Homo sapiens: one gene and its partners. The protein of the gene in region 1 interacts with the protein of each later gene in a pairwise test. Each region holds a gene or a part of one and is shown in the gene's direction. Other genes may lie near its edges. The genes, in order: FOXP4, SATB1 and SOX5.

Region 1 (3,753 bases):
CTGAAGTGGCTCTAGTTGGAATCTGGCTCATCACTGACCAGCAGCTGTGTAAGCCTGGGCAAGTTACTTGATCTCTTTGTGCCTCAGTTTCCTCTTCTATAAAATGGAGATAATACAAATATCTCCCTCCTGGGGTTACTGTGAAGATTAAATGGCTGGTGGGTGGTACGACTCAGATGTTAGCTGTTATTTTATTCTTATGGCTATGGTTATCTCAGTTGCCACACTGGAAAGGACACTGAGATATCCACATAAATGGCACTTAGAGTCTTCCCTGCACAATTTCACACCTAGAAATCTAAAACGCTCCAGCAGGACCTAAGTATGCCTGTCCCACCTGCCCAAAAAGGCAAATACATAAAATGTGGACCTGTGCAGGTGTCACTAACATTGCAGAAAAGGGACAGAAGTGATGAAAAACAACCCAAGAGGGTGCCTCCTCTCTGAGGTCCCCTTTTCTTTCAAGGACCACTGGAACGGCCAAGAAATCCCCTCCCCCCAGGCAACTAAGCATCAATCCTTGCAGCTCCGACCCCACACCTCAGGCTTCCAGCTCCCACTCCACAGGGGCTCACATACTATGCCAGCCTCTTGTCCACCTGCCTGAGGATTTAGGGCCAGGAGAGGCTTCAAGAGCCACTGTCTTCTTGTCCTGATCCCACAACAGGATCCTCCCTTGGTCATGGGGACCCGGCATCACTGAGCTGGGTTGGGGTACTTCATGAGGACCCCTGAGGCCTCCTTCACTTCTCCCCACCCCCAACACATGCAGACAGATGGGAGATGTTTCCGGCGTGTGTGGGGCGGGGAGGGGGACGGGTATTGAGATTTCCACGGGACTCTGAGTGGTGCGTCTGCTAACAACACAGCCCTCCCCCTTGGGCCGTGGGCATTTCCTCACCCAGACCTCCCCCTCCCAACCCAAACACACCATCGCCGCCACCACCACAATCCCTCCAGTCCCCCTGGGCAAAAGCGATGTTCAGAGACGCGGGGTTTTGTTTACAATCTAATTTGTCCGGATAATTGCCTCAACTTTGCACTTCACTTTGCCCGCATGGCTCTGGCCTTGGGCCCCTTCTTCACTGGTTCGCAGAGCACTTTACGGGAAATTCCCTTTCCGCAGAGGGAGGCAGTGCGCGCCAGGGGGTGACCGTTCACAAAGCCCTGAAGGGGCCTCCCCACCTTCTACCCTCGGCTCAGGAAGCCCACCCCCAGCCCCCACGCAGTGGGGAGCAGGAGGGAGGCCAGACAGGGCCCGGGCCTGACACTGGCTCCGTCTCTGGGCCCCCGGCCACTCCCCGCGCCGAGCGCAGCCCGCCGGGAACCAGTGAACCGTGTGGGATCAGGACTTGGCCGTACCTTCAGACTCCAGGGGATGGCCGGGGTTTGCAAGCGCCCCATAGGATTAGTCCGAGGCCAGGGTGAATCCCTGGGGTCCCTCCACCTACCATCTTTTTCAGATCTGCCGCCTCACGTCTTCTCCCCACGTTCCCATTTTTCCTCCCCTAAAGTTTGGTGCACGTGGTTTTCTCTCGCTCTCAGCGGGCTGCCAGGCGGGGTGAAAGTTGCTGCACCTGCTTTAGGCGAATTATGGTAGCACTAGAAGTTGGTCTCCCCTCCCTCCGCCGCTTGCTCTCTCGCTCCCTCCTCCCTCGCTCTCCGCGCGCTCCCTCCTTCCCTCTCCACCCTCCTCCTCCCCCGCCCCCTCCCGCCCCGCCCGCGCGCCGCCCGCTCGCAGCCACTCGCAGCCCAGGCTCAGTCGCAGCCCCTCGGAGTCCGGAGCCCGCCGTCCCTGCGGACCGGACAGTGCGGCCGGCGGCCGGCGGCCGGGACGGAGCCCCCAGCCCGCGAGGAGGGCGCGGCGCAGGCGGCGGCGGCGCGGCGGGGAGGAGCCCGGGCCGGAACCAGGGCTGGGCCGGGGGCGGGGACGCCGGGGTCCGGGAGCCCGGGAGCCGGAGCGAGCTGACGAGCGTCGCGGAAGGACCGGGAAGGAAGAGCGGAGCCGGAGCGAGCCAAGCAGCCCACAAAGTGCCATGCCCCGGCGGGGTTGAGGCGCGCGGCGGTCGGCCCGGCGCGCTGGGAGGACGCCCGGGAGCTGCGCGACGCGGGGCGGCGCGGAAGGGCAGCCCCGGCGGGCGGCGGCGGGCCCGGGCTGCGACCGGAGCGAGCCCCATGCCCCGCGCGGGCTGACGGGCCGGAGCCCGCACGGAGCGGCCGGGCGGGACAGGTAGGTGGCGGGTCGGGCCCAGGGACGTGGGTGGGGGCTGGGCGGGCGACCAGACCAACTCCCTCGCTCGCGCACTCTCTCGCCCGCTCGCTGGCTCACTTTGTGTTTGCAAACTGCCCGCCCGAGACGCGCTGGGCGCCGGGCGCCAGGAGGAGCCGGGCCCGGGCCGGCGCACTTTGTTCCAGCCAGGGCCGGCCGTGGCGCACTGACCCCGCGCAGCCGCGACATTCCGCCCCTGGCCCGGGCCCCAGCGGGCCGGAGCTGCCTCGGGAACAGGTGGGGGCTGTGGCGCGGCGGGAGTGGGGGCAGCCGGAGGCCGGGGCGGGGAGGGGGGCGGCCGGAGAGGCCACCGAGGCCCGCCCTTCCCCAAGAATCTGGGCCCCGCCCCCTCCCCGCCGGGCCTCTGGGAATGGGGTGTACGGGGGCGCGACCCCCTCCCCGCCCCGAGTCAGACAAAGAATACTTCCCGGCCCAGACTTTCCAGAGCTGGGAAGGGAAGTGGCTCCCCCCAACTCTAGTCGGTACCGGACTCCCCAGGACGCGCCGGAGACAGATGAAAATGGGGGCAAGAGAGCGGGGGATCGCGGTCCTACCCGCCGTGTCGTCTCTGGTGAAGAGGGGACTTGTCTTGCTGAGGTCGCACCTCGGAAGTGCCAGGGCCAGTCAGCCCCTTTTCCATCGCTCGGTCAGCTCGGGGATAGAGCGGAAAACTTCTTGGGGACTTGAGAGCGTCTGGAAATGGCCCCTGTGATTTGTGCGCCGGAGGTGGAGGGTGGGGAAACGATCTGGCTGACACCTCTACTCACCCGCTGTGGAGAGAGCTCCCGCTTCACCACTTAAGGGGGGAAGAGAGGGCGGCCACGGGGGCCCGGAGGCCACCAGGGAAGGAGCCCGGAGTGACCGAGCAGGACCCCCCCCCGCCCCAACTGAGGAGTCTGGTATCTCCCCTGGACAACCCCAGCACCTCTCTGACCGGCGGCGCTTCAGCCTCGGGCTCCTCATCCACGCCAAACAAACTTCCTTGGGCTGCGTCAGAGCACAGCCAGTGGCGCTAGAATGCGACCTGGGGTCCCGGCCGCCCCCATAAAGGACCGGGTAATTTCGCGGAATGCGGATTTTGAGACAGGCCCAGACGGCGGCGGATTCCCTGTGTCCCCCAACTGGGGCGATCTCGTGAACACACCTGCGTCCCACCCCGATCCTAGGTTGGGGGGAAAGGGTATGGGAACCCTGAGCCCAGAGCGCGCCCCGCTCTTTCCTTTGCTCCCCGGCTTCCCTGGCCAGCCCCCTCCCGGCTGGTTTCCTCGCTCACTCGGCGCCTGGCGTTTCGGGCGTCTGGAGATCACCGCGTGTCTGGCACCCCAACGTCTAGTCTCCCCGCAGGTTGACCGCGGCGCCTGGAGCCGGGAATAGGGGTGGGGAGTCCGGAGAACCAAACCCGAGCCTGAAGTTGCCATTCGGGTGACTCCCGAGAAAGCCCGGGAGCATTTTGGCCAATGCGGGTTTTTACCTGAACTTCAGCA
Region 2 (3,753 bases), on another chromosome or scaffold:
GAGTACAAAGATAAATAGCCATTAATTTTTCTCAAACTTTATAGTTCTTCAATTGGCATTCTTAAGGTTGCTTTTAAACTTCCAGATTAACATTGCTGCCCCCCTTTTCTTGATTATATGGTAAGAAGTAGGCTATGGTTAAACAGAAGAAAAAATATTTACAGAAAAGCCATGCTAATACAAACTGGCTTTCAACAAATCCAGATTTAAATAGCTCCAGTGTAAGAATTTACAACAAAAACAAGCTATATCAAATTACTAGACAGCTAGGAAAAATGGTAATTATTCTCTCTGGTTTTCCTAAATATGATCCCCTTAGTTTCATAAGCTCAATACTTCAAATACCATCAAAGTTCATAAAATAATTCTACTTACCTGTTCTTATCAATTCTAATTAAAACTATACTTTAAAAATGACTTTGATATTGTCTAATCACTTTACTATAAATGATGGGAAAATTGATGTCTAATATATAACTGAAAATAATTATCTGTTAATTTTTTTGAAGTTAATTACAATGTTAATGCCATTGCATGCTGAGGTTATTTCTGAATACTGGATATTTTGTTTTACCAGTATCATCAAGGTTTTTTGTTTGTGTTTTTTTTTTTTTTAATTGAGCTTGGCACTTCAACCTAATGTGCATATCACGAAGTGTATTCAATTTTTTAAAAATATTTATTGTTAACAGCCCTCTATTACTAATGGACACCTAAATACTGACTCTAAAACACATGAGTTTTAATGCATCAGTACGTTGGATATTTGAAAACCCTTCACTTCTTCCTGTTTCTTTAGGGGTAAACTGATCCAATCACATCTTTGGCCCAAAACTTGACTAGGTCTGTCACATAACTCTTGGAACTTTGATAGTAGAAAACTTTTTCTATGCATTAATTTACAAAAGCCAATGGGGAGTTTAAAAAGCAGTTAGATGTTTGTTACCTTCTTTTGAGATGGTTTATGTTTTTTTCATAAGAATTAATATACATACACATATAAAATGTATACATATAAAACATATACATTAGATTTCTAATATTTTGAACTATGATCATCTTTCCATCCTTTATTAAAGTGTTTCTGCTGTATTTTGTAATGTGTTTCTAATTGTTAAAAATTGGGACTACGTAAATGCAATTTGCTGTTTTCTTTTTAGCTATACTTGTAATAATTCTTGTTCTAAAAGTAAGCCCATTTTTCCCCACTTAGTTTTTTTATAGGCCAGTTATCTTTTTATTCATGTGTATTGGTACAGTTTCCACAGATCATTTTGTTAATTTGAATAAGAATGTAATGCTATCATCTAGAAATATAGTAACATCTGTATCATATCTAGATAGGCCATTTTACAAATACATTATATTTGTGGAGAGATATCTAGAGCTAAAACATTTACATAGGACACATATATACACGTAGGTCCCCGCCCAACTATAACGTGTCTTCTTTTTAAATTCTGGCAGGTGATCTTTAGACAGTGACTGAGTATGGATCATTTGAACGAGGCAACTCAGGGGAAAGAACATTCAGAAATGTCTAACAATGTGAGTGATCCGAAGGGTCCACCAGCCAAGATTGCCCGCCTGGAGCAGAACGGGAGCCCGCTAGGAAGAGGAAGGCTTGGGAGTACAGGTGCAAAAATGCAGGGAGTGCCTTTAAAACACTCGGGCCATCTGATGAAAACCAACCTTAGGAAAGGTAAATACCTTCAAGCCAAATCTTGAAAAGCTGAAAGCCCTGTTGTCTACACAAGGCCACACTGTGTGGGGGTGGAGTGGCAGAACATGTTTTGTATACTCTGCCTTTATTCTCCTTATGATCGTACATTAGTTACATTCTGGGTCCTTAGTATCAATCACGTTGGAAAGTATAGCCTCCATGCTTGGGTGGAGCGTTCTACTGTAGACTGGAATCATGGAACATTTTGGGTAATAAGGACTGAATTAAATATAATGGTTTTAGTTTTGGCAGGGTCCATTCAAAAGGTGTTGTAGTCGAGGATTGTAGGCAGCTGTTTCTTCAAACTAACCTGATTAAGAATAAAACACTTAGGTGATTTGAGAGTTACCCTAGCTTCTTCCTAAGATTCTTAGTTGTAGGGCAGTTTCAGAGATCTTGGACATCTTATGTAGAAGTTTGGTAATGTTATTTTTTGTGGCTTATTTTCTTAAGAGCAAATTCATTAGCAGTAAAAAATCTGATGATTCTAGTTTTTTATTTTTGTTTTAATTGGGTATTTTTGATGAAGAAAGAACAGATTTAGGCAAGTTTATAAGGGGAAGATGTGTAACTGTGTGACTTTTTTCTACCAATATTAAATTGATGCAGTTTAACAACTTGGACTGTGTTTAACAGTGTTGTTCCTGTAAAGCAGTGCCTACCCTGGGTGTAATGCATGTGCCTCATAAGGAGCTTCATTTTGTGTCTGAATAACATGTATAGGAATCAGATTTTCCTTACATTTGCTAAGCAATGGATAAAAATGCTATATTTTAGCAACCAAGAATATTAAGTAGATAAAGTTAGAAGGCAGAGGAATTTCATTGTGTTTGATGCGTAACATTTATCATACAATCATTTATTTTTTCCTTGGTTTGGCGAAAACAAAGAATATATTGATCCTGAAATGAACAGACACAGCAGTCCGTATTGTTAGATCTTTATCTATTAAAAATGGGAAAACAGCACTTCAGCAAATTCTTTGGCCTCTACTCATGATTACCCTATTTATTGATTGTTTGCCAAGAATGTATGCATCTTAAGAAAGCCAGGGTAAGAGCATTAAAAATATAATTTATTACGGCTTTTCAAACAGAGTGCATTAATATTGTACTGTGAAGCACTGGGGCTGTATAAAAAAGACTTTCTGACGCCTGCAAACATGTAAGTTCCATAAATTCCTAAATAGGAGATTTCAGCTGTCTCTGGTATTATGTGATATTTGCACAGCAAACTTTAATGCCAGGACAGTTTTAGACAAGGATTCTACAGACTTCACTGCTCCTTATGGCAGACGTGCTGTTTACACAGGCTCATAAACCTTCAGCAAAAGCTTCTAAGACTGCCTTCAGGTTTAAATCATGTGGTATTTTTAGCATTCAGCAGTGACCAGTGCTCTCCCCTTTAAATGCTGGAAGGTTATGAAGTTGCTGTAGTTGGAACTCTCGCCAAACACTAGCACGAATAATCATACAGTTCAGAAAAGGCTTGTGTTCAGCATTACTCCCAGAAACGGGAGGGTAACCGCAACAGTTTGCTAGAAGGTCTGTAATTAGATAGTACTATTGTCACTTTATAGCCGTCTTTATTATTTTAGGGTACCTCTAAACATGATCAATAAAATCCACAATAAATCCAATATATTTCAATAGTTTGAAAACCCTGCAGTTATTTCATAGATCTAAGGAAAAGCATATTGTAGAATACATCTGATTCATCCTACAAAAGGAAAAATGAATGTGTACATTTTTGTTGTACTTACCCAACTCTTTGAAGATATCAGGACAGGAGGAGGAAAACTAAAAGTACAGTAAATTCACTTCCTGCTCAAATGCTTTTTGGTTTTGTTTTGTTTTGTTTTGGATGTATTCTAAAAATGCAGTTTAATTGTAGGAGGGTCTCAGATACTCCAAATAACAAAATTACTAAAGTCTTTTTGTGGGTTTTTATTAACATTTTCATCTTATTTTTCATGTGCATGGTTTCTGTCTGATAGGTGCTAAATGAAAATTATGGCTGAGATGAGAAAA
Region 3 (3,753 bases), on another chromosome or scaffold:
ATTCTATAGAACTAAAGTTAATATAAACTATTTTGTCTCCAGTTTCTCTACTGTATTTTATACTGATTGACAATTTAAAAATAGTTTTCTATTAAATAATGTACATAATTTGATGAATAGAGTACAGGAGTTCCAAGGCCACTGACTTAAGAGATTTTTTAATTTAGTATGTACAGTTGTCACATTGTCAGAGACTTCATTGAGATAAAGCATGTACTGTGTTAAGAATTTCAATATCTCATTAGTTCTTGGTGGGAACATTAGTTGGGCCCTTTACCTGTAATACAATTATCTTACATCATTGATTACTTTCTGTGAACATTTTATTGTGTCAATAGCAGTTCTGCAGTGTATGTCGTTCACTAGTATGATTCATGACTATGTTCCTCAGAAAATGAGGTGAATAATTATAAAGAAACTTGAGATAATGTTATGAGATCCAATGGATGCATTTCTTAAAACTGTTTTGGTGCTGTTTGGTACTACATCATCCTCAGAGCAGTGCTGGAGAGTTCACGAGAAAGTTATCAAGTTTCATTATATGCTTTTTCTGTTCCTAAAGTCACCCAGTTTCTTAATTTGACAGTAATGTCTCATATGGTTTAGATTAAGCATTATATTTTTCTTAAAAATAATTTATTTTGAAATGCTATGTTCTCCATGAATGTGAATCGTGCACTGCATGCTTAAACAACTTGATGTCTCTGTAGATCTAATTTTGGTATATTTGTATCTCAAATAATTCGCCAACTCAATATTTTGGCTTAGCAATCCAAATCAAATTGTGGTCCAAGTAGCAGGCACTCACATTGGATGTACAGAGACTTGACAAGCAATTAGCAATGAATATTTAAACGTCTTCATTACCCTTGCATGAGGAATGCAGATGGCATTTGGGAAGATGGCAACCAGAGGGCACTACTGTGAATTATGTTTCTATTATTTGGTCACCTGACTATTGGAAGACTTTCTCTGGGCTTCACGCCACTCCTATACTTCTACTGTCTGGCCAAAAATAAAGCAGACATTCCAAATGTAAAACAGGTTGCTTCCATGAAATTTCTGTGCACATTTTGTAATTTGGGAAGGTTGTCTCCAAGGATCCCGGCATATATCCCTTAGGCATACCAAACCCAAACGCCAAGACTTTATAGGGGTCTATGAGAATCAGAGTTCCTTCAAAAATCGTGCTGATCATCCCCTTAATGACTTCAGGTTAATGTGCTGAACGTAAAAAGGTGAATATATCAACATTGCATCCTTTCCAGGAGTTAATGTATTATATATGTGGCCCAAAAAAAGAAAGTCTTCAAATAATTTTAATTCCTAGACTGATCTCTCATTATAATTTTTTTAAAGGAAAAAACAACACTGGAGAGTCTGACTCAGCAACTGGCAGTTAAACAGAATGAAGAAGGAAAATTTAGCCATGCAATGATGGATTTCAATCTGAGTGGAGATTCTGATGGTTTGTGAAAATTGTTCATACATATTCTAATAATGCAAGAAAGTGTCTAGGTAGTGCCAATTAAAACTGCTAAAAAATAGACTAGACAGCCACCTCATACCTCATCATTACAATAAGAGGTCACATATACTGAGCAGTCCCCATGTGCCAAGCACTCTGCTGAGTGCTTTGCAGAAATCGTCTCATTTAATTCCTAGTCAACCTAGGATAAGTCCCATTGCAGAGAAAGAGCCTGAGCCTCAGGAGTTTTGAAGCATTTTCCCCAGGTCACAGGGCTCTAAGTGTCAGAGGCAAGAATTAAATTCGAGATGGCATGATTCTAAAGCAAATGCTCAAAATGCTTAGCTTCCCAGGCTCAAGTGATCCTCCCACTTTAGCCTCCCAAGTAGCTGGGATTATAGGTGCATGCCAACATGCCCAGCAATTTTGTTTTTTTTTTTTGAGATGAGGACTTACTTACTATGGTGTCCAGGCTGGTCTCAAACTCCTGGGCTCAAGTGATCCTCCCACCTCAGCCTCCCAAAGTGCTAGTTTTATAGGCGTGAGTTACTGCATGCGGCCTCACTTCCCTATTTCTTGTACCCAAAATGAACTTTTTCAGAAATTTGTTTCTATTGGCTCATTTTTTAAGTTTCTATTTGTCAAGCCCTCACCAGAATACATGGCTCAGAGGACATTTCCACGATAGTTTCTTACATTTTGGAACCCTTCTCCCTAGTGCTATGTACTACATAGTCAAGTGTCGGGCCCACTCTCTATAACCTAACTAGAAACCAGCTGCACAGCTTTATGCTCCCTTCTCATAGGCCTTCAGACTTCTGTTTTCTGTATCATCTCTGAACATTCTAAACATCCACAGTGAGAAGAAATTAAATTGATACTCTGATTTTTAATAGCGTAGCAAAGAGGGAAAAAGAAGGAAGTGCTGTTCTTCTTATACAATACCCTGACCGGGAACATCTCTCTACTGTCAGGTGGCATCCATGCATTTTAAGCATTCCTTTGGCAGTACCGCCCTCAACTTTGTTACTACTACAGGGAAGTTCCCTGCATATAGAGAAGAGTGCACAAAGGCAAACCAGTGAGATGCATACTTTGAGAGGGGGTCCCCTTGAATCCTCCAATATACACAACTGTTTACTCTGTGCCTTGGGCCAATTCTACTTTTAAGACCAGGTCTATACTAATCAAGGGACTAAACAAACCTGAACGTTGAAACACGTAATTCTATCAAAACTGAATTTTACTCAATTGGATTCAATTTGCATTTTTCTGGGTCTAATGTTGCAAACATTTTCTTCTATTTTCAGCTCCACTTAGCTAAGATAAACCTAGCCTATGTACATTTAAAGAGCTTGTTTAGATTTGATGAAGACACATAATGTTCATTTTATTGCTTATGTTGCTGTAAGGTGTAAGAACAAGAAAAGGCAGATGTGCAAATGATCACTTGCTAGTTACAAACCCATTTTAGGAAGATGTTGCCATATATTTGCACTTATTTTGTCAATAAAAGACAATTACGGGTAATAACACATTTCATAAATTTTAAGTTGTATTAGCATGATAAAATATACCCACAGTAATCAGCATTAACACATCAAAGTTTTTGTTGCTGTCATTACCTAAATTCAATCATGCTTGTATGTGAAATATTTTCTACTTTTCATTAAATCAAAGAGCATGTTATTAATGAAAAATATTGAGAAACTTCACCAACAGGTATGCTATGTTTTGAATGTGCTGCTATAGAGGTCTTCAAGTTTGGGCAATTTTGTTTGATTCCTGTGTCTCCAAATTTAAAAATAAAGAAAAGATGAGGAATGAATACAAAGCAAGAAAAGAAAAGCAGTGCTTTTGTTGATAATACAGTCTCTACAAGTCCCCAAAGTATTTTTAAAGTTTTGGATACTATCAAAATACATCTACTTATTTTGTGATAATACCCAGTGAAAACCTACTGTCAGAGTTCTACTGGTTCTCCTTATTTTCTCTTTGCCTAAACTCAAGTATCTTGGAAGCAATTTAATCTGCTGAAGCCATTCTAAGGGGTCACATAAGGCTGGAGGAGTGAATGCAGCTTCCAAAGCTATCGTTGTTAACTCTTGAATTGTGTTTTATCATCTGTGAATCTTACTGATTGAAATGTGACTGTCCATGGGACTCTTTGGATAACTTTAAATATTAGGGGGAAAATTCAAAGGAAATTATTATTTTTCTCATCTTAAACATGTGACTGTAGACTCCTTAAGAAACTAGAGGAATGTAACTGTTCATTTGTTCTT

What was found.
Region 2: the proteins of FOXP4 (region 1) and SATB1 come close enough for resonance energy transfer, tested with the Homo sapiens proteins (one study listed by BioGRID).
Region 3: the proteins of FOXP4 (region 1) and SOX5 come close enough for resonance energy transfer, tested with the Homo sapiens proteins (one study listed by BioGRID).

What each region holds. Positions count from the first base shown.
Region 1 is NC_000006.12:41,544,638-41,548,390, forward strand, and holds the start of FOXP4 (forkhead box protein P4), read left to right. Parts: upstream 1-1,743; 5' UTR 1,744-2,230; intron 2,231-2,823; exon of another isoform or gene 2,824-2,908; intron 2,909-3,740; exon of another isoform or gene 3,741-3,753. UniProt on the Homo sapiens protein: Transcriptional repressor that represses lung-specific expression.
Region 2 is NC_000003.12:18,418,706-18,422,458, reverse strand, and holds part of SATB1 (DNA-binding protein SATB1), read left to right. Parts: intron 1-1,467; 5' UTR 1,468-1,491; coding exon 1,492-1,702; intron 1,703-3,753. UniProt on the Homo sapiens protein: Crucial silencing factor contributing to the initiation of X inactivation mediated by Xist RNA that occurs during embryogenesis and in lymphoma.
Region 3 is NC_000012.12:23,544,031-23,547,783, reverse strand, and holds part of SOX5 (transcription factor SOX-5), read left to right. Parts: intron 1-1,359; coding exon 1,360-1,468; intron 1,469-3,753.